Linked DNA regions of Homo sapiens. Each later gene encodes a partner of the first gene's protein in a complex. Each region holds a gene or a part of one and is shown in the gene's direction. Other genes may lie near its edges.

The links.
Region 2: EPC1 (region 1) and BRD8 share a complex: the UniProt entries of both Homo sapiens proteins name them as parts of the nuA4-related complex.
Region 3: EPC1 (region 1) and RUVBL1 share a complex: the UniProt entries of both Homo sapiens proteins name them as parts of the nuA4-related complex.
Region 4: EPC1 (region 1) and MORF4L1 share a complex: the UniProt entries of both Homo sapiens proteins name them as parts of the nuA4 histone acetyltransferase complex.

The regions. Positions count from the first base shown.
Region 1 is NC_000010.11:32,281,135-32,288,165, reverse strand, and holds part of EPC1 (enhancer of polycomb homolog 1), read left to right. Parts: intron 1-891; coding exon 892-1,068; intron 1,069-1,150; coding exon 1,151-1,240; intron 1,241-1,323; coding exon 1,324-1,472; intron 1,473-3,115; coding exon 3,116-3,468; coding exon of another isoform or gene 3,469-3,581; exon of another isoform or gene 3,582-4,045; intron 4,046-7,031. UniProt on the Homo sapiens protein: Component of the NuA4 histone acetyltransferase (HAT) complex, a multiprotein complex involved in transcriptional activation of select genes principally by acetylation of nucleosomal histones H4 and H2A.
Region 2 is NC_000005.10:138,168,617-138,175,647, reverse strand, and holds part of BRD8 (bromodomain-containing protein 8), read left to right. Parts: intron 1-3,513; coding exon 3,514-3,583; intron 3,584-4,237; coding exon 4,238-4,287; intron 4,288-4,487; coding exon 4,488-4,610; intron 4,611-4,735; coding exon 4,736-4,816; intron 4,817-5,238; coding exon 5,239-5,303; intron 5,304-6,289; coding exon 6,290-6,426; intron 6,427-6,959; coding exon of another isoform or gene 6,960-7,031. UniProt on the Homo sapiens protein: May act as a coactivator during transcriptional activation by hormone-activated nuclear receptors (NR). Isoform 2 stimulates transcriptional activation by AR/DHTR, ESR1/NR3A1, RXRA/NR2B1 and THRB/ERBA2.
Region 3 is NC_000003.12:128,080,297-128,085,830, reverse strand, and holds the end of RUVBL1 (ruvB-like 1), read left to right. Parts: intron 1-3,256; coding exon 3,257-3,348; intron 3,349-4,421; coding exon 4,422-4,581; 3' UTR 4,582-5,021; downstream 5,022-5,534. UniProt on the Homo sapiens protein: Possesses single-stranded DNA-stimulated ATPase and ATP-dependent DNA helicase (3' to 5') activity; hexamerization is thought to be critical for ATP hydrolysis and adjacent subunits in the ring-like structure contribute to the ATPase activity.
Region 4 is NC_000015.10:78,875,881-78,882,911, forward strand, and holds part of MORF4L1 (mortality factor 4-like protein 1), read left to right. Parts: intron 1-2,332; coding exon 2,333-2,379; intron 2,380-4,631; coding exon 4,632-4,699; intron 4,700-7,031. UniProt on the Homo sapiens protein: Component of the NuA4 histone acetyltransferase (HAT) complex which is involved in transcriptional activation of select genes principally by acetylation of nucleosomal histones H4 and H2A.

The DNA.
Region 1 (7,031 bases):
CCTTATGGTTTGGGAAAACCGTAGTTTTCCCAAAAAACCATAATGTCATAAACTACATAAAATGTAACATGAATATTTAGCGTATTTACATAACCGTGGTATTTGCCGTGATCTTTTTCTTTCCAACAAATACAATTTTTGCCACTACTTTACCTTACCTATTGCCTACGTATCAAATTCATACTTCTCCCAACCTTTGCCATCATCTGCAATACATGTTTCGAACATGCTGTGTTCCATCAGCTCAGTTACTGTTGCCTGTATATTTTATCCTGCATTTCCCCTATTTAATGATTTCATATCTTTATCCTTTAAAACTGTTCAAAAGTCACCATTTCAGAAAGCTTACATTGTTCAGCCCACAAATCCTTACTACTCTTTATTTGTATAACCCCTCACTCAGCATTATGGCTTTGTTTTCTACTATGTTAACAGTTTTCTGTAGTTTGCTTTCTGTGTATACGAAGACATTTTCATTATTATTTGTCCTATATTTATTATTTGTTGAGAATAAGGATTAGACAATCCCCTTTAAAAAAAAATTCTCTTCTAGAATTTTCATAGAAAATTAAGAAAATGGGAGGAGCCAGCAGTAAATACACTAATTGCAGTTGTAAGACTTCAGAAGTTGGAGAACTTCTGTTCTCTCCTTTTAATTGAAACAGAATCATTTGTGTGATTATGTTTAGATTGTAGGACAAATTTATGCTTTCATGGAGGCCAACTTCTCTAGACTTTACACTATAAGATGGCCAAACATAGAGTGTTGTGTCTCTTATGAATATGAATGCCCTCATTATAGCAATAAACTTCTTTTTAAAATTTCCCCCAAAACTGCAAATTTGTTGAACATGGTTTCTGGTGTATAATTAATTCATGTCTTTGTTGCAGCAAGATAAAGCCGATCTTATCCGACCGAAACGGAAATATGAAAAGAAGCCCAAAGTCTTACCATCGTCTGCCGCTGCTACTCCCCAACAGACGAGTCCTGCTGCACTGCCAGTCTTCAATGCTAAAGATCTGAATCAGTATGACTTTCCCAGCTCAGACGAAGAACCTCTCTCCCAGGTACAAATACAATTCTCTATGAACATTGAGGAGGGATGTAGGAAGTCACGTATCTGACCTACTTTCTTTATTTCATTTAAAGGTTTTGTCTGGCTCTTCGGAAGCTGAGGAAGACAATGATCCTGATGGTCCTTTTGCTTTCCGTAGGAAAGCAGGCTGTCAGTACTATGCTGTAAGTTTCAGAGTGTCTTTGTAAATAACAAACTATTTACCTTTAACTGACAAAATTAAATAATTTGGATTTTTTTTTTTAAGCCTCACTTAGACCAAACTGGCAACTGGCCTTGGACTAGTCCTAAAGATGGAGGATTAGGGGATGTGCGATATAGATACTGCTTAACTACTCTCACCGTACCCCAAAGGTGTATTGGATTTGCACGAAGACGGGTTGGGCGCGGTGGAAGGTAAGGTATTTCTGTATTCCTAGCAGAAGGATATTTTAGGCATTAGGGTGATTGAATCTAACTTTTAAAGTCAGGTAATCCCTCTGAACAACTCATTAGTTCCTATTTGCTATTCTTAACTGATCTGTTGACTAAAATATTTTTGTTGCTGTGCTGCCTGGTTCTTACACATCCATAGTTTTTGACATAACTCTATTGGGTCCCTAGTGGACCTGCTTTTCTCCCCAAGGTGGAAAACCTCAGATAAATTATCAAGGGGTAGAATTGTGAGAAAGGGCAACAGATGAAGACAAGTGTAAATCCTGATTGCACACAGTGTATTAAGTTAAAGAAACTGCAAAAAAGTTGTTTCACACTAGCTAGTATAATGGGTTTAACCTGACAGTGAAAAGGATCCATGCATAACCTGATCTTGACATCCCAGTTTGTTAGGATCTAATTGTTCTTCCTTTGTTTAAACCTTGTAGAATTCCTTCCTTCATACTCTAAATGCCTTTATGCGAGTTGCTTGTATGGGGACAGGAAACAAATAGCAAAACACATAAACTCAAGGAATGGAGAGACGTTAATGTATAATGTGCGGGGAAAATTAAAAGGGAAAGCAAATAATAGTATCAAGGTGCTTTTTCAGGAAGAAACCCAAGCGTATATTTATGATAAACTAATGGCTTATACATATATTTTTTTCATCTTCAACTCTTAATTGCAGAGGGTTTTTTTTTATTATTTAAACATTGGTTAAGAATTATCTAGGCACTAAAATACATTTTATTTAGTCCGTTTTTTTCCATCACTGCTGACATCAGGAGCAGTGAAAATTCTCTACGTTAGCTATATTTTATTCTATTACTAACATTAATCAATGTTATTATTTTGACTTGGAGCCATTTATAATGTTTATATAAATAACATAAGAGGCCAGGCATGGTGGCTCACACCTGTAATCCCAGCACTTTGGGAGGCCAAGGTGGGTGGATCACTTGAGGTCAAGAGTTTGAGACCAGCCTGGCCAACATGGGGAAACACTGTCTCCACTAAAAACACAAAAATTAGCTGGGCATGGTGGCAGGCGCCTGTAATCTCAGCTACTCGGGAGGCTGAGGCAGGAGAATCACTTGAACCCTGGGGCGGAGGTTGCAGTGAGCCAAGATCGCACCATTGCACTCCAGTCTGGGTGACAGAGTAAAACTCCATCTCTCTCAATCAATCAGTCAATCAATCAATAACATAAGAATATATCCTCTAGAGTAGTGGATCTCAAATATTTTGTCTATAAGAAATGTTAATGGTATACTATGTTTTTTGTTGCTTTTCTTCTCTCTTCTCCCTTTCCCCCCAAAAGGAATGAAGTTTTTGCTTAAATATAGAATAAATGTGTTCGCAACATTTTATAAAGCATTCATTTTGGTGCTTTGTAATGGAAGTGAAAATCTTTAGTTGAAAAACAATTTGTTAAAAGAACTTTTATTAGAAATTGAGGTTGTAGCCTATAAAAACCAAACACTAAAATAATCAACTTTAAAGCTTTTAAATATTCAGTATGAGTTGGCCTTTTGGCAGTTGGGGGTAAAAAGAAAAAGCTTTAATATATAATCTTTGAATAGCTATTTTAAATAACTGTTTCTTGTCTGATTTTTTAATAGGGTCTTACTGGACAGAGCTCATTCAGACTATGACAGTGTGTTTCACCATCTGGATTTGGAAATGCTTTCCTCACCACAACATTCTCCAGTCAATCAGTTTGCCAATACCTCAGAAACAAATACCTCGGACAAATCTTTCTCTAAAGACCTCAGTCAGATACTAGTCAATATCAAATCATGTAGATGGCGGCATTTTAGGCCTCGGACACCATCCCTACATGACAGTGACAATGATGAACTCTCCTGTAGAAAATTATATAGGAGTATAAACCGAACAGGAACAGCACAACCTGGGACCCAGACATGCAGTACCTCTACGCAAAGTAAAAGTAGCAGTGGTTCAGCACACTTTGGTATGTTGACTGTTAATGATGTACGTTTCTATAGAAATGTCAGGTCCAACCATTTCCCATTTGTTCGACTATGTGGTCTGTTACATTTATGGCTTAAAGTCCTTTTCTCTTAAACAGTTAAAAAAAAAATCTTGGTCTAAGTATTTATTTGAATCCTGTTGCTATAGGAGTTTGTATGTGTGTGTCTTCATTTAAACATACCTGCATACAAAGATGGTTTATTTCTATTTAATATGTGACATTTGTTTCCTGGATATAGTCCGTGAACCACAAGATTTATCATATTTTTCAATAATATGAGAAGAAAATGGGCCGTAAATTGTTAACCATTTTATGTTCAGATATTTCTCTAGTTTTTACCTAGTTTGCTTTAACATAGAGACCAGCAAGTGAATATATATGCATAACCTTATATGTTGACACAATAATTCAGAATAATTTGTTAAAGATAAACTAATTTTTCAGAGAAGAACATTTAAAGGGTTAATATTTTTGAAACGTTTTCAGATAATATCTATTTGATTATTGTGGCTTCTATTTGAAATGTGTCTAAAATAAATGCTGTTTATTTAAAATATTCCTATAATCTTAGCTGTCTGTTTTAAAGCATAAGTTTGTGTTATTTGAAGCCTATATATTGTAGAAATTCACCATTGAATTATGTTACTACTGATTTTTGTAAAGGTAATCTGAGGACTATGAAGATATTTATCATTCCCCTAATTCACCCTGTAGGGTTATAGTTAAGTTGCTTCATAAATATGAACATTTGCTCTGATTCTTAAAGACCTCCAGAAAATGTTCCGTAAACTAATTTACTTGGTGGTTAAAAAAAAGTACAGTTGACCCCTGAACAACATGAGGGTTAGGGGCACCCCCCAATTGCAGTCCAAAATTCATGTATAACTTTTGACTCCCCAAAAACTTGACTAATAGTCTGCTCCTGACCAGAATTACCAATAACATAAACAGTCCATTAGTCCATTAACATAAACAGTCCAAACATACATGTTTTGTATGTTATATGTATTCTGTACTTCATTCTTAAAATAAGCTAGGAAAAAGAACATGTTATTAAGAAATTTATAGAGCCAGGCATGGTGGCTCATGCCTGTAATCCCAGCACTTTGGGAGGCTAAAGTGGGCAGATTGCTTGAGCCCAGGAGTTCAGGACCAGCCTGGGCAACATGGTGAAACCTCATCTCTACAAAAAATGCAGAAATTCACTGGGTGTGGTGGTGAGCGCCTGTAGTCTCAGCTACTCAGGAGACTGAGGTGGTAGGAGCCCAGAAGGTCAAGGCTGCAGTGAGCCAAGATCATGCCACTGCATTCCAGGCTTCACAGCAAAGCAAAACCCTGTTTCAAAAAAAAAAGAAATTCATAAAGGAGAGAAAATACATTTACTAATCATTAAGTGTAAGTGGATCATCATAAAGGTCTTTATCCTTGTCATCTTCACATTGAGGGGGAGGAGGGGTTGGTCTTGTCATCTGAGAGGTGACAGAGGCAGAAGATAATTTACAAATAAGTAGACCCAGGCAGTTCAAACCCATGTTATTCAAGGGTCAGCTGTACTTCTATGAAATGGAAGTCTTTCAGCTCATGAGAAAAATAATCACAATTCAGAAATCAGCTGGAAGATAAAGCTATTTTAGGGACTAACAGCTTATTTATAATCCCATTAATGTTACTGTCTTTATCACCAAAAGCCAGTTTCTCTCTACTTTTATAGTCTTAAGAATCAAAATAAAGAACTTTTCAATAAAGACTTACTTATAGTGTTAGTATAGAGGTTTTAACAGTATAAACCTGTCATAGGTTACCCTGATAATTAAGCTTTCTAAGCTGTAAAAATTCTTTAAGACTTCTCAGAAAATAGGCATGTTCCATCAATCTCCATCTTCTCCACCCCTTAAATAGAGAAGTTGAAGTGTATAACTATCCTAAATATTTAAGGATTTTATAATGCTCTTTTTTTATGAAAAATGTTTTGCTATACTGCTTTAGGCATATTAATAACAGTTGTAAAAATTGTTTGATTTGTGTTTGCCCAAAGAACATTAAAAGATGAGCATTACCAAAAGCTTAGCTGAAAAGAAATCATTAGTAACCTTGTAATTTTTCTTCTTTATCATTTCTTTCCTCCATATATGCGATACAACTATTTATTTATTTATTTAAGACAGGATCTTTCTCTGTCACCCAGACTGGAGTATAGTGGCACAGTCATGGCTCACTGCAGCCTCAACTTCCCAGGCTCAGTGATCCCCCAACCTCAGCCTCCTGGGTAGCTAGGACTGCAGGCGTATGCCACCATGACTGGCTAATTTTTTGTAAGAGATAGGGTCTATGTTGCCCAGGCTAGTCTTGAACTCCTGGCCTCAAGTGATCCTCCTGCCTTGGCCTCCCAAAGTGCTAGGGTTACAGGGGTGAGCCACTGCACCCAGCCTCAATACTACTTTTTAAAAATGAGTTTATCTATTTTTTTTCCTGTTGTCTTAATTATTTTCAATTTCTCCTTAAATTTTGCTAGATCTTCTAATACTTAGAGGATAGATACCTACAGACTACTGTAGGGTAACACTGTTCATTTATATTTGTGAATATTCCAGAGACCTAAAGCTTTTCTCTGCATACTTTATAAAGTATATTACAATGCAGCCATATCATAAGTGCATTTCACTTAATCCAACTCCAGGCCCCTGAAGAAAAAAAAAACAAAATTTAGGCCAAGTGTGGTGGCTCATGCCTGTAATCCCAGTACTTTGGGAGGCCGAGGCGGGCAGATCACCTGAGGTCAGGAGTTCCACACTAGCCTGGCTAATATGGCGAAACCTGGTCTCTACTAAAAAATACAAAAATTAGCTGGGCATGATGGCAGGCGCCTGTAATCCCAGCTACTCAGGAAGCTGAGGCAGGGAGAATGGCTTGAACCTGGGAGTCAGAGGTTGCAGTGAGCCGAGATTGTGCCATTGCATTCCAGCCTGGGCGACAGAGTGAGACTCCATCTCAAAAAAAAAAAAGAGAAAATGTAGCAGCTCAAATGTTATACAGAATTCTAAATACAATTTACTGAAAGAATATATTCTCCAGAGTGAGCCTGGAGTAGGGGAAGTTGAATGTGTTGGTCCTCTTACGGCGTGAGTGCCCGCATTGCCACTTTATTCATAGGTTAAGCATCTTACCTCATTCAGTAGTAATTGTGATTTTAAAGATAATTTTTAATTTTCATACAGCATGGCCCCCACATACAAACCAGACTACTTCCTCTGGCACTTAACCAAAGAAACTCTGATGTAGTCTGATGCCAGCAGAAAAACTGGCAGTGTTGGGCTAATTAAAACAGAAGAGTCAGGCCAGGCACAGTGGGTCATGCCTGTAATCCCAGCACTTTGGGAGGCCGAGGCAGGCAGATTGCCTGAGATCACCTCAGATCAGGAGTTCAAGACCAGCCTGGCCAACATGGCAAAACACGTTTCTATTAAAAATACAAAAATTAGCCAGACGTGGTGGTGGGTGCCTGTAATTCCTGCTACTCGGGAGGCTGAGGCAGGAAAACCACT
Region 2 (7,031 bases), on another chromosome or scaffold:
GGCTGGTCTCCAACTCTTGGCCTCAAGTGATCCTCCCAGTTTAGCATCCTGAGTAGTTGGGAATACAGACCCTTGCCACCATGCTTGACTAATTTTTTGTGTTTTTTGTCACTTGTTGCCCAGGCTGGTCTTGAACTCCTGGGCTCAAGTGATCCTCCCACCTTAGCCTCCTAAAGTGCTAGGATTATAGGCGTGAGCCATCACTCCCAGCCTAGAACTATCATCATTTTACCTTTCTCGGTATCAGCCCCTCACCCCCTTTCTTTTGAATCATCCATTATGAATTTAACTCTCTTGCCACATTTATAAACAATTCAGTACTTTGCTGATTGTCATGCTTCCTAGCATTTTTTTTGTTTGTTTTTTAAATCTAATTTTTGAAGTAATATGTGGCCACCATAAAAACAAAAACACTATATAGAAAGCAATAGCAACAAAGAAATGGGTTAAAAACTTAAGTTTAAGGCCGGGCGCAGTGGCTCACGCCTGTAATCCCAGCACTTTGGGAGGCCGAGGTGGGCGGATCACAAGGTCAGGAGATTGAGACCATCCTGGCTAACACGGTGAAACCCCGTCTCTACTAAAAATACAAAAATCAGGTGTGGCGGCGTGCGCCTGTAGTCCCAGCTACTCAGGAGGCTGAGGCAGGAGAATGGTGTGAACCCAGGAGGCGGGGCTTGCAGTGATTTGAGATCGTGCCACTGCACTCCAGCCTGGGCAACAGAGCAAGACGCCATCTCAAAAAAAAAAAAAAAAAACTTGAGTTTATTTTTTGTCACACATACAGGAAGTCTAGGCAGTCCACAGCTCTCATAGCAACTTCACAGTGACATTAGAGGCTCAGGATATTCTCTTTCTGTTCCACCTTCCTCAGTGCATAGTTTATCTTCTGGTTATCTTATGGTTCACGGTGGCTGCTTGACCTTCAGCTATCACATCCTTGTTCCATGCAACAAGAAGGAAGGGGGTTGGTAAGAAAAGTCACATCTCTTCCCTTTTAACAACTTTTTTGTGATATAATTGATGTGCAGTAAACTGCACCTTTTTTTTTTTTTTGAGATGGAGTCTCTGTTGCGCAGGCTGGAGTGCAGTGGTGCAATCTTGGCTCACTGGAACCTCTGCTTCCCAGGTTCAAGTGATTCTCCCACCTCAGCCTCCCGTGTAGCTGGGACTACAGGCCTTTGCCACCATGCCTGGCTAATTTTTGTATTTTTTGGTAGAGATAGGGTTTTACCATGTTGGCCAGGCTGGTCTTGAACTCCTGACCTCAGATGATCCACCTGCCTCGGCCTCCCAAAGTGCCGGGATTACAGGCATGAGCTACGACACCCGGCCAGTGCACACATTTAGAGCATAAGACATGGTATTTTTGAAATATATATACATTTGTGAAACTATCCACAATTAAGGTAATTATTATAGTATCCATTAACAGATGAATGGGTAAAGAAAAAATATATATGTATACACACACACACACACACACACACAATGGAATACTGTTGAGCCATAAAAAAGAATTAAATCCTCCATTTGTGATTCCATGGTTGAGCCTGGAGGATAGTATGTAAAGTGAAATAAGCCAGACACATAAAGAAATACCATATGATCTCAGTTATATGTGGAATCTAGGAAAAATTATAGACCTCACAGAACTAGAGAATAGAATGGGGCTGGGTGCAATGGCTCACATCTATAATCCCAGAACTTTGGGAGGCCAAGGCAGGAGGTTGCTTGAGATCATGAATTGGAGACCAGTCTGGGCAATATGACAAAACTATAAAAAAACACAAAAATACTAGCCAGGTCTGGTGGTGTGTGCCTATAGTTCCAGCTACTCGGGAGGCTGAGGTGTGAGGATGGCTTGAGCCAGGGAGGCAACATAAGAGAAACTGTTCCCTACAAAAAAGAAAATTAGCCAGGCATGATGGTGCATCTGTGATTTCAGCTACTTGGGTGGGGCTGCAGTGGGAGGTTGCCTAAGCCTCAGAGGTGGAAGCAACAGCAAGCCATGATTGTGCCACTGCACTGAAGTCTGGGTGACAAAGTGAGATACTGTCTAAACAAAAACAATGTGTGTTTTGTATGTGTGTGTGTGTGTGTGTATACACATCACATATATTTGTATATGTATATAAATTGAGCTCATTTTTAAACAAAACAGGTAAACTGGTTTGAAATAGAATCTAATCTGTATATTTCCTCACATTTTTATTAGATAAATAGTGTTAAGAATCTTTTTTTTTTTTTGAGATGGAGTCTCACTGTGTCACCCAGGTTGGAATGCAGTGGCACGATCTCGGCTCACTGCAACCTCCACCTCCTGGATTTAAGTGATTGTCCTGGCTCAGCCTCCCGAGTAGCTGGGATTAAAGGTGCACGCCACCATGCCTGGCTAATTTTTGTATTTTTAGTAGAGGTGGGGTTTCACCACATTGGCCAGGCTGGTCTCAAACTCCTCATCTCAAGCAGTCTGCCCTCCTCGACCTCCCGAAGTGTTGGGATTACAGGCGTGAGTCACCACGCCCAGCCATAGAAAAATAGTATAAGAATACTTGAGTAAAAGTTTTAAATTTTATTATTTTATCAGCAGATACTAAGTCATAAGATTCAAAATTATATGCAGTGTCTTCCTCCCGTTACTATCCCCCGTCTACTAGTGTTAGCAGTTTCTTGTGTCTCTCCAGCAAAATTTTATGTGAGCAAATATTTTCTTTTTCCCCTTCATCCCCCTCATTTTCTAACACAAATGATTATATACTATATATGCTGTTCTTTTTTTTTTGAATGGCGGAGGGGGTGGTCTTACTCTGTCACCCAGGCTGGAGTGCAGTGGCGCGATTTGGGCTCACTGCAGCCTCTTGACTTCCTGGGCTCAAGGGATCCTCCTACCTCAGCTGCCCAAGTAGCTGGGACCACAGGCCGCAGGTACGCACCACCATACCTTGTCGATTTTTTTTTTTTTTTTTTTTTTTTTTTTTTGTAGGGATGGGATCTCCTCGGGTGGCTTGAACTCCTGGGCTTGAGCTGTCCTCCCACCTCTGCCTCCCAGAGTGCTGGGATTACAGGCACGGTCCATTGCACACCTCGCATTCATTGGCTTTTTTTTTTTTTTTTTTTTTTTTTGAGATGGAGTCTCACTCTGTCCCCAGGCTGGAGTGCGGTGGTGAGATCTCGGCCCACTGTGACCTCCGCCTCCTGTGTTCAAGAGATTCTCCTGCCTCAGCCTCCCGAGTAGCTGGGACTACAGGTGCATGCCACCATGCCCAACTAATTTTTGTATTTTTAGTAGAGACGGGGTTTCACCATGTTGGCCAGGTTGGTATTGATCTCCTGACCTTGTGATCCACCCGTCTTGGCCTCCCAAAGTGCTGGGATTACAGGCGTGAGCCACCGCGCCTGGCCATTCGCATCTTTTTTATTCCAAAGTTTGAACTCCAAGCCTTGCACTCTCAGCATACCTCTCCTATTGTTTTCTGCTTGGTGTGTAATAAAGCTTTCCTCATTTTGTAGGGTATCAGTTAGCAGAGCAATCAAGCCCTTTGCAGAACCTGGCCGCCCTCCAGACTGGTTCTCTCAAAAAGTAAGTTCCCAAGCAAGGGCTCTTTTAGAGCAGTCTTTGGGTTGTAAAGTAGGTTCTCTACCAGGCCCTGACTTTTAGTTACAAAGCTTTTATACCATGATGTGGGAAAATAGTTGAGAATACCTTTTTCTTTTTCCTACTGTTTGCTAATCCATCCATGTATGATCATATTAGACCTTTCTTATTGGTGTTGCATAACAGTTAAGAGCCCAAGCTTGGGAATTAGATCTGGGTTCATTATTACTCCATCTAAAAACTTTGGGCCATGATCCTCTGTTTTTTCATTTGTAAAATAGAGATAAAAGAGTTGCTTCAGGATTGTTGTGAAGCTAATTGAAGTAATACATGTAAAACATTTAACACAGTGCCTTGCATGTAGTAACTACTTGGTAGATATTAGCTATAAATATTGGCAGTTAGGTTGCCTTTCCGCAAATGCACAAACTCCAGTCCATAAGACTGTCTTTTTCTGTGTCTTGTTTTGATTATTTTGAACTGATTTGATTATAAAGTTACTTGCCCTCCTAGTAAACCACTCCCGTCTTACATATAGTTCTCTTCTCTAAATCTTACTCTAATCTCTTGAAACTTTGAAAGGTCATTTCTTTCCAGCCTTGCTCATCACATTTTCACTTTTTTTTTTTTTTTTAATAGCATTGTGCTTCCCAGTACTCGGAGCTTTTAGAGACCACTGAGACACCAAAGTGAGTACAAAGCCAGGTACTTCAGCCATATTTCTTTAGTGGAGAGTATTTACTGAGGAATTCTGGTTTATACTTAGTTATGATACTGGATGATTAAAAAATAGCAGAAGTTATCTATGATTAAGTGGTAAAAGCAAGTAGGAGAGGGGATAAATGTTATGTTATTTGAATATGAATTTTTTTTTTTCAATTTTCCACAGACGGAAACGAGGTGAAAAGGGAGAAGTGGTGGAAACTGTTGAAGATGTTATTGTTCGGAAATTGACTGCTGAGCGAGTTGAAGAACTAAAGAAAGTGATAAAGGAAACCCAGGAGAGATATAGGTACTTATCAGAGAGAATGCCAAAAAATTGAGAAAGACATAAGGGACTGTCTTCTGGTACTGGTCAGAACTTTTAAAATAGCAGATTAAAAAACCCAGTCTACCTACCTCTCTTTCTTCCTATAGACGGCTAAAGAGAGATGCAGAACTAATTCAAGCTGGACACATGGACAGCAGACTGGATGAGCTTTGCAATGACATTGCAACGTGGGTTATATTATATTGTTCTTCTGTGCTTCTTTCTTTTTACCCTCTTTTCCCCTCAAGTAATCTGGCTTATTTCCTCCAATTGCCGTCCCTTTAGACTTGAGACAGATTCTGGAAGGGGAAAGCTGCAAAGTGGTTTGGTGGCTGGGAGGGGGGAGTGAGTCCTAGAAGGTAATATAATGGGACATTTCAGTATGAAAACATAACTTAGTTCTAACTTAAGAGTGGCTATAGTTTGCCTGGGTGAAGAACTGGGAGTTAGGCAGTATACCCCAATTCACTGTTTTGCTGGTTAGAATTCCTGTTTAGGCCTTTCTTCCAGAAAGTGCTGGCCTGGCAAAAAAAATTACTTTGTAAGGGTTCTGTGAACTCTGGGGAGGAGCCAGAGCTGTCTAGCATCTAACCCTTAATTCCCTGTTTAGGAAAAAGAAATTGGAAGAAGAGGAGGCTGAAGTAAAGAGGAAGGCTACAGATGCTGCATACCAGGGTAAGCTGAACCTAGTATGCCTCTTTAGCAATTGATTGCACAGTACTGCATGCTAATGACAGTTGGACTGTTTTGTAACATAGAATACATTGATTTAAATTTACTTGCAGTTTTCTCTTCTACCAGAATAAAAACATCCCTTAATGTCTTAAGAAGAAACTCCTAGAACATGCGTTGTGCTCAGATCTCACTAGACCTTAAATTAACTTCAGGACACAAAGGCTTGATGAGATATTGAACATAATGTTTTAGAAGTCAAGGGCCTGTGAAAAGATTGAGAATAGCTCAGTCATTAGATGAGGAGAAATTTAAGCATTTACAACTCTAGGAATACATGCTGTGCGCCAGTGAGGTCTTTCCCTGTTTTTGTTTTTTGTTTTTCCCCCAGGCGGAGTTTTGCTCTTGCTGCACAGGCTGGAGTGCAGTGGCGCGATCTTGGGTCACTGCAACCTCCGCCTCGCGGGTTCAAGTGATTCTCCTGCCTCAGCCTCCCGAGTAGCTGGCATTACAGGCGGCTGCCACCACACCTAGCTAATTTTTGTATTTTTAGTAGAGATGGGGTTTCGCAGGCTGGTCTCAAACTCCTGACCTCAGGTGATCCACCTGCCTTGGCCTCCCAAAGTGCTGGGATTACAGCCGTGAGCCACTGCACCTGGCCTTCCTGTTCTTAAAAGCAGAATATTAGTAAGTTGCTAAAGAGAATATTAAAGGATGTTTAAACTACTTTCCCACTCCAAGGACCTTTGGGATAATTAAGTAGTTTGAGATTGTTAAAGGAGTTTCTTAGTGTGAGAATTGCCCTTAGGAAAAATTAGGCTAAAAAGTTATCCATCTCTAGAAGTGTTAAAGCTTTCTAATCCAAACTTATTATGCTGCTTTAGTAATGCAACATACCTATTTGTCCTTTATTGTATAATAGCAGACTAGTGTCAAGTTTCATTTATTTAATCTTGAAGATTTGGACATTGTTCTCTTTTATGTTCTAGCTCGTCAAGCAGTAAAAACACCCCCCCGGAGGTTACCCACTGTGATGGTTCGCTCTCCTATAGATTCTGCCTCCCCAGGAGGTGATTATCCACTTGGGGACTTGACTCCAACCACTATGGAAGAGGCTACCTCTGGGGTGAGTATATTTCCATCTGTGGGAATTGATCAGTGAAGGGGCAATAAGCCGGCAGAGCTGAGCGATGAGGAAACCACTTTTGGCCTAGAGGCAACTTCCTCTCTTGATCTGAATGCTAAAGACTTAATTTACCATGTTCTGTGCTCTGAGATAAGAACGGACCTAAAAGCATTGAGGCTTTTGACCTTTTTGAGAGATAGGTAAAAAACTATTTTAAGAAATTGTTTCATACTAGTCTTATGAAATTCCTGCTGAAATAAGGGACAAAATCCTTGTAAATGTAATATTGGTAGTGGGTAAGGAGTTCATAAAAGGCAGGTTGGGTGGGATGGTTGAGTCACTGTGGGTTTGAGTGGATGAAAGAGAAGATTGTGGGGAAGAAAAGTATGGCTAAGAGCAGGAGGGATAGAGGGTTTCTGGGCAATTCCACTCAGGACTAATAAAATAATAGTTAGACACACTAACCCATACAGATTAGTAGGGAACCTTCCATAGTTTGAGAAGTCAGATAAAGGTTCTCTGTTGTCTCTTAGGTAACCCCCGGGACTTTGCCGAGTACCCCAGTCACCTCGTTTCCTGGGATTCCTGACACCCTTCCTCCAGGC
Region 3 (5,534 bases), on another chromosome or scaffold:
ATGAGGTGGCTTTCCTCTGGCAGTTTGTGAGCAGGACCTTTCCTTTGGAGCAGTCAGGGCCTCTCCTGGGCCTTTCCTGGCACTTCTGCTGCTCTCCTGTGGCTGGAGGCCCAGCCTGGGCCTGCCAGCATCTCTTACCGCATGCAGGAGTGCTGTGGGGATGCATCAGGAGAGTCACAGATCTCCCTTTGTAACCAGCATTGGCAAATTACTGAAGCAGTTATGGTTCATAGTAGCAATTGTATATGTTACCTAGGAGATGGTGTCAATGGCCGGGGGCCTCATCGCCACGTAAGGGTGTCTTGCCAGGTGACTTGCAAGGGTGACTGCCAGGTTGAAGCCAAGGCATTCACTGAACGGAGGCAGAAGCAGAAACAGTCCCAGGCAATTCTTGGAAAACTGGCCCATTCTTACTGCGGGACATAGCACCTTACTGTTGGGTCCAAAACCCCATGTGTCCTGCCAAAAAAGGCAGCCCAGCACAGATGTGTTCAGGGCCAGAGACACCATTTGCCTACTGAATGACTTGAGCAATTTGGTGCATCTCACCGAGCCTTCACCTTCTCTGTTAAATGGAACATCTCCTCCCTCCTTTGCAAGATTGTCATTAGGATTTGTGAGGTATTGGCAATAACGGGCCCTCCCATCCTTCCCATTGCTGTTGTTATTACTGTATTCATAGCTTTGTGTGCTTCATAGGTACCCTCTAGGGTCCTCTACGTACAACATACAACAGCTTCGCAATAGCCAGTGTTGGAGGCTCCAAGAACGAGGGTCCTGTGGCTATGTGGAGAGTAAGCAGCAGAGCCAGGACTGCCACTCAGAGCTAGTTCACCCTTGCTGCCGCCATTCGAACCCAGAGCTCCTGGCCCAAACAGTCTGGAATGTTCTGTACTGTGCTTCTAGGACAGTGACTTGCCAGGCCAACTCTGGGCTGGGGCTGTCTTGGCTCTGTCAGGAGGGCCTCTCCTCAGGCTTTCTCTCAGGACTCGTGGCTTTGTTCCCGCTGGCCCAGGCGATAACCTCAGCATTTTTACTGGAGCCTGGGGCTAGGTTTTTAAACAAACTCAATGTAACTTGTGTACTCTGCAATCCAAGCCGACACCCTCATAAACTATCCCTGCAGGTTATTAAATGATTAAAGATCTCATTTATGAACTGTCCATTTTCGAGCAGCCTGAGACAGACGCTTTCACGATTGCTCTGACCTGCTGCTCTCTCTAGTGAGAGAGAGAGAGCAGAGTGTCCCTGACATTCTGGAAGCTGAGCCACAGATTCAGTGCATCTCACTGAAGGCGAGGCACTTAGCTTAAGCTGTCTCCTATGACCAGGCTCCAGGATTCAATATTTACATCTCCCTGGAGTTTCAGAAGGTCATCTGGGGACATTTTTCTTGGCAAGACCTGGTGGTTTCCTCAGTCCCAGCTGTGAGTGAGAAGCCGTTTTTACCTTGAAGCTGTGTTCAGGGGGGAGTTCTGTTGTGAGTCCCTCCCAGCTCCTTTTCTTGGTTGTCCTTGTACCATCCAGTAACTTCAGAGGGCCCCTTTTTGCCCAGCTGCATTTAGCTTTGGATTTCAGACAGTGAAGCCCCTCCTGCATAAGCTAAGATTGTTTCAGTGGAGCTCACACCCTGGCAGTTCACCCATGAGCCCAGCAGATACGTTTCATGTGGCCTATGCAGTGTTTGTGAAATGTTTGAACAAGTTGCTGACATCTAGACATCAGGACATTTCTTTCTTTCTTTCTTTTTTTGAGATGGAGTTTCTCTCTTGTTGCCCAGGCTGGAGTGCAACGGCCCAATCTCAGCTCACTGCAACCTCCGCCTCCCGGGTTCAAGCAATTCTCCTGCCTCAGCCTCCTGAGTAGCTGGGATTACAGGCATGTGCCACCACACCCACCTAATTTTTGTCTTTTTAGTAGAGATGGGGTTTCGCCATGTTGGTCAGGCTGGTCTTAAACTCCAGACCTCAGGTGATCCACCTGCCTCCGCCTCCCAAAGTGCTGGGATTACAGGCGTGAGCCATTGTGTCCTGCCAAAATCAGGACGTTTCGTACAAGGATCTGAGTTCTGAGCCTGTCTTGAGAAAAGGGAAGACTGCAGACAACACCTTGCAGCAGTGGTGGCCGCGGGTGGAGGGGCTGCCTCCCCAGGGTGTTTGCTGGCCAAGCATTTCACCCTCACCTGGCTCATCGCAGCCGCTCTGTCCTGCTGGGGCTTTCCAAGGCCTTTCCCATCTGTGGGCAGCCAATGTGCTGTCCCCCAAGCCCAACCGCGATCATCAGAGACTGGGCTCCCCCTGCAGCTCCTGCCCGCAGGGTCCCAGCCTGGAGAGCTGACAGGCGAGGCTTGATGTGGCCACCTCAGTAAACCTCTGGCTCTCCTCCCTCCTGGAAGGCTGAAGCTGGGACTCAGTCTTTCCCAGCTCCTGTGCCTCTACACTGGGTGTGCTTTTATGGCTTTAATTTCAACAAGGGCTTCTTGATATCTTGTTTACGAAGCTGCCAAAGTGAAAAATTCCTGTATTATATGCGGCTCGAAGTCCTGCAGTTATCTCAGCTCCACAACACACAACATCATTATCCTGGCTGCCCCTTATCACTCAGTGCTGGTACGCCTGCAGGATCCTGGTCCACCGTGTTACAGCATCCCCGCCGCCAGCCTGCCTCCCCTCCAACTCTACCAAGATCTTCAAACTGCAACAAGCGTCAGCCTCTTCTTGATAGATTAGATATCTCCCGGTGATGTTATGAGGCCTGGTAAATCTTTAAAAGTAACTGTTTTGATTTATTTAACCATCATATTTATCAAGCAAATAAAAAATGTCCCTTCTTGCCTGAGTGCTTGTAGGCAGTAGTGCCCATGCTGGAGAGGAAGGTTAGAGCCCTTGCAGGAGCCCCGGGTAGGTTAGAAGAGGCCCCAGTTCTCTGCCTGGGGACAGGGGACGGGAGGACATGGAGGCAAGAGTGAGCCACTTGGGAAGCTGCATACCTCCTTGGGCACCAGCCACACTTGAGTCAGTTGAATACAGCACACTGGCCGTGATGCTATTCATGCATACTGCAGGGCCGCACATGCCTCCTGGAGGGTGCCGGGCCGGCAGTGCTGGGCAGGCGTTGGCTCCCTGCCCACCAACCCAGGTCTCAGTTTCTCTTATGCTGCACAGTGAGAAATCTGAGCAACATTGTCTTTAAAGCACTTTAGAAATGGGGCACTTGAGGTCAGTCACCGTTGATCATGTTTTTTATCCTTTAAAAGATCATTAAAATCCGTGCCCAGACGGAAGGAATCAACATCAGTGAGGAGGCACTGAACCACCTGGGGGAGATTGGCACCAAGACCACACTGAGGTGAGCTGGTACCCTGGGCCCGCCGGGGCCTCCCCAGCACAGCCAGGGCCCTCGCTGGGGTCATTCTGGACAATAAAGGCAGGTCCCTTCCTAGGGCATGGGACTCTATCCATCCGCTCTTCCTGGCGCGATGGGTGCCAGGGCACTTGAGTTTCAAATGCAGAGGATCTATCTGATGGTTTTTAACAAGCTAGAGTAAGGGTGAAGTCCCCATGTCCTGCAGCAGATGCTCCCCTCTGGTGGAGAGTGCTTTGACCCTGGGCCTTCTTGTGGCAGAGAAGATGCACAGAACTAGAGAGCAGGGACCATGTGGTAGCTCATTAGCCAGGGCCCTGGCTCCTGTTCTCCCGGTGGTGTTATGAGGCCTGGTAAATCTTTAACTTTTTTGATTTATTTAACCATCAAGCAAATAAAAAATGTCTGGGTGGTGGATATGGAGAGCCAGGGAGGAGCGCAGACATAGACAGTTCTCCTAATTGTTCTCCAGCGGCTCAAACACAGGACCGGCAGAGCATGTCCCTTCACAGTGGCCTGACTCATTGTAAAATCATTGCTTCACAGTCCTCAGCCCTTCCCTACATCCCTTGAGTCAGTTCTTGCTCCTGAGGTTGAAGGCAGAAATGCAAGCTGTGAGGTTTGGATGAAGGGGTACTTTTTAAAACGGCAGAGTCTTCATGCCTTTGGATGGGCATGTACTTCCAGCTGGCTATGTTTTCATTTCCCTGCCATGTTAAATATCCCTATCTGTCGGACACCTGTATACATATAAGTTTGCAGTCCTTTTCCAGTAGCAGTGACATTACTTCCTACTGGAGGATTTGTAGACTGTACTAAAGATTTGGGGAATAGCACTTATGTCTTCTTGGTGGCTCCTGGACCCTCTCTGATGGGATAATGACTGCAGCTCTCTGAGAAGTGACAACTTTGTCTCCCCTTTTCTGTGTTCGTAGCAGCTGGCACAAGCCCAGCACTGGGCTCTGCTCCTGGTGCCAGTGCTGCCTACTGATGTGGGGGGAAGGTGCTTTCTTCGGTGGCCCCAGTTTCACTCCAGCCCTGGCCCCTGTCCACTCTAGGTACTCAGTGCAGCTGCTGACCCCGGCCAACTTGCTTGCTAAAATCAACGGGAAGGACAGCATTGAGAAAGAGCATGTCGAAGAGATCAGTGAACTTTTCTATGATGCCAAGTCCTCCGCCAAAATCCTGGCTGACCAGCAGGATAAGTACATGAAGTGAGATGGCTGAGGTTTTCAGCAGTAAGAGACTCCCCAGGTGTGCCTGGCCTGGGTCCAGCCTGTGGGCGCTTGCCCCTGGGCTTGGGGCTGCCGTCCCCACTCAGGCGTGGTCTGCAGCGCTGTCAGTTCAGTGTGGAAAGCATTTCTTTTTAAGTTATCGTAACTGTTCCTGTGGTTGCTTTGAAAGAACCCTTCCTTACCTGGTGTGTTTTCTATAAATCTTCATAGGTTATTTTGATTCTCTCTCTCTCTCTCTCTAAGTTTTTTAAAAATAAACTTTTCAGAACAGTTTTAGATGTACAGAGTCATTGTGAACATACAATAGGGAGTTCCCATGTATCTTGTACCCAGTTTCCCTTCTTGTTAACGTGTTACATCAGATAGCACATTTGTCACCGTGAATGACCAATACTGATGCATTATTCTACTGCGTTCACATTTTCTCAGTTTTACCTAATGTCCTTTTTCTGTCCCAGGATCCCATCCAGGATAACCCATTACAACTAGTTGTCATGTCTCCTTAGATGCCTCTTGGCTGTGACATCTTCTTAGATTTTCCTTGTTCTTGATGACCCTGACAGTTTTGAGGAGGACTGATCAGGTATCTGTAGAACATCCCTCAGTTGGGGTTTGTCTGATGCTTTTCTCATGAGTAGACTGGGATTGTGGGTTATGGAGAGGAAGACTAGAGGTGAAATGTGGTTCTGATCACATCGTATCATGTGTGGTTCTCATCACATGCTAGCAACATGACTCATCGTTGATGGTGAGCTTGACCCTTTGGCTGAGGTCATGTTTGTCGGGTCTTCTCACTGTAAAGTTACTCTCTGCTGCCTTTCCATACTGAATTCTTTGGAAGGAAGTCACTATATGCAGCCCACACTTAAGTGGCAGGGGTTATGCTCACCTCTAGAGAACTGAGTATTTACCAAAATTATTTGGGATTCTGCATGG
Region 4 (7,031 bases), on another chromosome or scaffold:
TGTAGAGTTTATGTAATGGTAGAGAAAAGAGTGGCGAGAAGTAGTGTTTTTTTGTTTTGTTTTGTTTTTTTCTTTTTGAGACAGTCTTGCTCTGTCGCCCAGGCTGGAGTCCAGTGGCGCGATCTCGGGTCACTGCAGCCTCCGCCTCCTGGGTTCAAGCGATTCACCTGCCTCAGCCTCCTGAGTAGCTGGGATTATAGGCACGCGCCACCACGCCCAGCTAATTTTTGTATTTTTAGTAGAGACGGGGTTTCACCATGTTGGCCAGGATGGTCTCGATCTCCTGACCTCGTGATCCGCCTACTTCGCCGTCGCAAAGTTCTGGGATTACAGGTGCGAGCCACCGCGCCCGGCCGAGAAATAGGGTTTTTAATGATTCTTGTAAACTTGTTAAAAAAAAAACAACTCGTAAACTTATAAAAAAGTTTTTTTTTATTTGATAATGGCGTGCAATATATGTTGTATAAGCAATTCTTAAGGCATAGTGATTGCTTTGCACTGGACTTGGTTTTCCATTGGAAATTCTTTTTTGTTTTGTTTTGTTTAGATTTTGAGACGGAGCATTTGCTGTCCTGGGTCATACTCCTCAGCTAGCTGTATATTTTTTCAACAAAATACTAGGGCCTCGTAGCTAGAATGGAGGTCACAGGGCCTCGGTTTCAGTGCACTTTTTTTTCCGGCAGTAGCAGCCAAGGGGAGAAAAATGGTAGGCCATTTTCAGAGTGCCTTTAAAATGTACCAGGAGAGTGAAATTAGGAAACACAGATCTGATCTGATCTTGTTCGCTGTTTATTAGCAGTATAGTTTACCCATTTTAGTTCTCGTTCCTGGGCCGTTGGAGAAGTCTTTGATCTTCCCGTTTTCCAGTCTCCGTCTTTAATTCAGAAATGCTATTCGTAGGTCCAGCAGCCTCTAGCAGTGATTCTTTATAGAGTGACCACTTAAAAGAATTATAGAACTGATTTAAAAATAAAGTTAATAGGTCGTGCTCTGGGAGAGTCTAATAATATGGGTCTTTGGTGGGGCTTGAAAATACATAGTTTTAAAAAATATTTTAAATTTTAGTGGTTTTTTTTTGAGGCGGAGTCTTGCTCTCCCATCCGGGCTGGAGTGCAGTGGTGTGATCTCTGCTCACTGCGACCTCCAGCTCCTGGGTTCAAGCGATTCTCATGTCTCAGCCTCCCGAGTAGCTGGTAGCTGGGACTGAAGGTGCACATCACCACGCCCGGCTGATTTTTTTTTTTTTTTTTTTTTTTTTTTGAGAGGGCGGCTCCTTCTCACCCAGGCTGGAGTGCGGTGACAAGATCTTAGCTCACTGCAACCTCCACCTCCCGGGTTCAAGCGATTCTCGTGCCTCAGCCTCCCGAATAGCTGGGATTACAGGCACACACCACCATGCCTGGCTGATTTTTGTATTTTTAGAAGAGACAGGGTTTCGCCTGTTGGCCAGGCTGGTCTCAAACTCCTGACCTCAGGTGATCCAGCCACCTCGGCCTCCCTAAGTGATGGGATTACAGGCGTGAGCCACCTCGCCCCGCCTGCTCTTTTAATTTTAGAGCTAAAAAAGAGCTGACATTCTTGGATATTTCAGTTGTCCATGGGTCTTTTGAAACCAAGTGGACTGAAAATAATGTGTGCAAAATCTTTCAAGCTACACTCAAATGTAATCTGAGGTACTGCCTAGAATTGCTTCCAAGACTTCCAGGTCCTGACATTTTCTTTAGTCTTGAAGTAGGCTCAACGTAGACTGTTACGTTCCAAAGGTTAGGCTTTATTGTCTCATTTCTTTGTTCATTGAAGCAACTTAGCACCTAGAACATCATTCCACATTTGAAGAATGAACATAGTGAGACCCCTTAATCCAGCCAATCTCTGATGCATATTGATATTTTAATTTGTACGATATTTCACTGAGTAAAAGGGTTGGAAGCAGAGATACAAGTGGAGAGTAAAGGTCCTCAACTTAGAAAAACAGATGAGGAAAGCATTTAAAAAACTGTATTTTCAGATATATAGTTAAAACCAACCAACCAACCAACCTCGACAGCTTTGCAGGAGAGTCCGCTTATGTGCTTAACAGGTGATAGATGATTTGATTATTTAAGTAGATTGACCTGCTAATGAATTGTTTTTGTTTTTACCATCGGATACCAACGTGTTTTTGTCGTAGGGTATAGTTGAAGTTTGAGCCAAAGTGGTGCTCTGTATACCCGTCCTCATTTTTCCTAATTTGGCTAGGAATACCTTAATAAAAGTGTGATGACTCTCTAAGATGTTAATCTTTTTATATATGAGAAGAAATTACAATTCAGTACTTTTTCTCCCTTTACAGGTGAGCGAGTGCTGTGCTTTCATGGGCCTCTTCTTTATGAAGCAAAGGTATGAAACTTGTTTTCTTTTGAGAAGTTGGCCAAAACTACTGGTTAGATCTGGCCATTTAATATACAAGTACAGTATTTTGTTGTTGCCTCAGTAAGAGAGTTGCCTTTTTTAGGTTCGTAGTTAATAAATTTCTTCATCTTTCTGAGATTCTTATTGTTTTGCTTAGTGGCTCAAATGAATTAAAACATTGCTACTCTCTTCCACTTTTCTTACTCATCTGGAAGTAGCATTTGAGGGGAATGTTAGAAGGGGAAGATGGGCTGTGGGAACAAAGAGCATTTTGTGGTTAATGACTTGGTGAGAAAACATTGCTGAAGTTACTTTTAAAAGTAATATATGCTGAGTAAGCATTGAGCTAATTATATTAGGTTAAAGGTAAAAGCCAATATTAAAAATAAGTACATTTAACTGTTGATTGTTGATTTGTCTGGCAAAGTTTGTATTCTGGGAGGCCCCCTTTGTATCAGGGTGTGCTCAAGTTATAAAAACTGATTTTACATTTAGCTGAAGGTAAGCAGGAGAATGCATTCCAAAGTAAAAAAAAGTTTCAGTATTTTGTTTCTGATAACTTTTTTAGTACAAATATTTAAGACTTGACTATACCTTAAACAGTCGTAGCTCCAAAAATGAGCCCGTAAAATACAAAACAGTATAATGTTTAATTTATGTAATTTCTGCATAAATTCTTGGTGAGTAGTTTTATGCTATATGTGTCTGAAAATAGCCTTAAAGTGTCAGACATTTCTGACTAAATATTAGCCATTTTCACTACTTTTTTTTTTCCTGTGTTCTAAATACACAGAAGTGTATTTTTAAAGTTCTAAAGAGCCAAACGCGGTGGCACATGCATGTAGTTTCAGCTACTCAGAAGGCTGAGGCTAGAGGATTGCTTGAGCCCAGGAGTTCAAGGCCAGTTTGGGCAACCAAGCGAGACTCTCTCTCTCTTTATTTTTATGCTCCCCGCCCCGCCCCGCCCCCCAAGACAGTATTGCTCTGTCGCCCAGGCTGGAGTGCAGTGGTGCGATCTTGGCTCACTGTGACGTCCCCCTCCCGGGTTGAAGCAATTCTCCTGCCTCAGCCTCCCGAGTAGCTGGGATTACAGGCACCAGCCACCACACCTGGCTAATTTTTGTAGTTTTAGTAGAGACGGGGTTTCACCATGTTGACCAGGCTGGTCTTGAACTCCTGACCTCGTGATCCACCTGCCTCGGCCTCCCAAAGTGTTGGGATTAGAGGTGTGAGCCATTGCCCCTTGGGAGACTGTCTCTTAAAAAAGAAATCCTAAAATGACTGAATTTGGATGTATGGAGATGGTCAGGAATTTCTAAGTATATGTATACGTACATACATCTTAATGATATAATGTTTGTAAGTGCTAAATTACGACTCATGGCCAGGGGCTGTGACGTACAAGCCTGTAATCCCAGGGCTTTGGGGAGCCAAAGCAGGAGGATCACTTGAGGTCAGGAGTTTGAGATCAGTCTGGGCAAGATAGCAAGACTGTCTCTACCAAAAAAAAAAAAAAAAATTATGTCCTGTTAATCGTTTTTATCCCTGAATGTTGTTATTGTTGTATCAACGTTTGGCAAACTCTACTAAACTGGCTGATTTTTCTCCTGGCACCTGACACTCTGGTGAACAATTTTCGAATTGAAGCTATTGAAACAAATTAAACTGTTGTGGTTATTTTGGTTTTCTCTTAAAGACTTTTAAATCCAAAACCAGATAGTCATCACTTGTCATAGTTAATGACTTGCCTCTAGTAATTCCTTTTGTCTGGCTGCTTTTAAGAAAAGTGAAATATTTTTAATTCATTGCTTTACAAGTTGTTTAAACTAACTTTTCAGAAACAGGTCCATTTACTGCCTTTCATAAGCTAATGAAGTTTTTTTATAATATAGTTTAAAGACTTTGCTTTAGAGGAATTTGCTTTTGAAATAAATATAGCTCCTGGCTGATTAGACTGAGAAGACACAAGCATAGCTTTCATTAGCTGTCCTTGGATAGCTTTTGTAATCCATTGATTAAAGATTTAAGGTGACCTTTTATGCTTGTGGTTCTCAGCTTTGTTGGACCTTTTGTGACTAATCTTCAGTTTTGTAACTTGAGTATTCTACAAGCTTAGTGTTCTTAGTCATTCTGTTTAGGCCACCATAAAGCTTGTGTAGAGTGTCTTTGAAGGATGATTTGAAAAGGTAGTGTCTTTAAAAAATTTCTAAGTGAATTATTATTTTTTTTTTGAATTTCAGTGTGTAAAGGTTGCCATAAAGGACAAACAAGTGAAATACTTCATACATTACAGTGGTTGGAATAAAAAGTGAGTATTAGATCTTACAATTCTATTTGTAATTAACAAGATAGCTTGTGTCACTGACTGGCTTAGCAAGCATATGCTTTTCAATTCTGCAGTTTTAATGTAATATAGTACATATTGAAGCAAAGGTGAATCATTTGTAGTATGACAAAACTATTAGAAATTAGGGTACTGAGCCATTTTAATTTAAATATACTTGGATCTTGGGAATATTTGTTATGTTCTAGTGTAATATCTATTAGTCATATAGTCAATCAATTATTCTGGTTGAATGTGGCAATCACATTTTTCTGTTTTTTTTTTTTTCCTGGTTTTGGTACATTTTTAGGATGGCCTGAATTATTTGGCCTTACCACAAACATGTTGATTATATATGTTATTTCAAGCAGCTGTGCTAAAAAAAACTAGTTGGGTTTTCTGTCTAGAAAAGGGGAAAGGATAAAGGTTGCTTGATTGGGAAATAAAGACAGAATTTACCAGTCCATATTCTGAACTTTGGAAACATTATTTAGTGTTGACCGAAAATGACTTCATGTGACTCACTTTTTAGCATGGTTTAACACAGAAACATTCAATTATAGAGTCTTAATTTCTCACCCCTAAGAGTTAAGCCTTTTTTTTTTTTTTTTTTTGAGAGATGGAGTTTTGCTTTCGTTGCCCAGGCTGGAGTGTGCAATGGTGTGAGCTCGGCTCACTGCAACCTCCGCCTCAGGGGTTCAGGTGATTCTCCTGCCTCAGCCTCCTGAGTAGCTGGGATTACAGGCACCTGTCACCATGCCCAGCTAATTTTTTGTATTTTTAGTAGAGACGGAGTTTCACCACATTGGCCAGGCTGTCTTGAACTCTTGACCTCAGGTGATCCACCCGCCTCGGCCTCCCAAAGTGCTGGGATTACAGGTGTGAGCCACTGCCCGGCCTTTTTGTGTGTGTGTGTGTGTATGTAAAGTACCGATGTTATTGATCTTGTTCTAGGAATGGACAGTGGGTATAGATTGAACACATTCTAGAATGTCCATCCAGTGGAGCTGTTTTTCAGTGATGGGACTTTTCTCCTTGGGCCTCACAAATAACCCTGTCTAAAAATTTACCCAAGTCTCCTATTTGGTGATTGTAATGAAAAGACTTGTAATTTTTACTATGGGAGGTTTTACATTTTATTAATGATGCCTTGTCCTTCAAAGATAGCACTGCCATTGCTATTTAGTATTGTTCTTGTGGAATTGTCCTCTAGTAACTTAAGGCTTTGTGTCACCTGACTCAGGCTCTTTTACCTGGTTTACTATGGGATCAGTGCCATCTGATTTGATGAGTATTCTGTTACTATGGAAGGAGTTTATTTTTCCTGTGAAGTTCACTGGCCCTGTGACTTTGGTCTTGTTTCATCTAGTACTCTATCCAGGTGACCAACCCAGTTAATTTTATTTCTTTGTTAGGAAGTTGTTTTCACGTATCAGATGTTTTCAGCTGAGAATTTATCAGACCTTTTACTTCCATTAATATAAATGTGGAAAGGTAGAAATCTGAAATGCATAGAAGTGCATCCTGACAACTTGTGGGTATTTTTTTCCCAGTTAATGATAATTAAAGTATTTCTAATCAGTGAGGTGTGGTGGTGTGCACCTGTAGCTACTTGGAAGGCTGAGGCAGGAGGATTACTTGAGCCCAGGAGTTTGGGGCTGCAGTGAGCTATGATGTGCCACTGCACTCTAGCCTGAGTGACAGAGCAAGATCTGGACTCCTTTAAAAAGAAACAACAACATGTATTTCTAATAATGATAGGTAATATTTAATAATGATAGGTAACTCCAACCTCATGGACTTGTATTTTAAATATTGAGAAGTTGGGAAAATAATGGAGAAAACTGTCTTGGTAGAAGTAAACTGTGCTTTTAGTACTAAATGGATTCTAATATCTAGGAAACAGGAAAATAGTGACTCCTAGTGTATCTCATAGCTTTTTATTACTAAACAATGCCTTGCTAAAACTGCATTTCAATCTTTATTAGACTTATATTTTGTGTGTTGATATTCTGACAATATCCAGATAAAGTTGAGAGTGTTAGGAGAATTTCATTTCTCTACAGGAAAGATAACATCTTAATTTTATGCATACTATGAGTGGGAAAGACCATATAGGATATCAAAAAAAAACACAAAGCAAATTTATGGTTTAGGCTTAATCTCCTCCATCTCCTGCATTTTAAAGGAATTGTTTTAGAGCCAGTATGGTGGTGCCTATAGTTTTAGCTTCTTAGGGAGGCTGAGGTTGAGCCCAGGAGTTTGAGGCCAGCCTGGGCAACATAGGTAGACACCCCTCTTATAATTAAGCAAATAA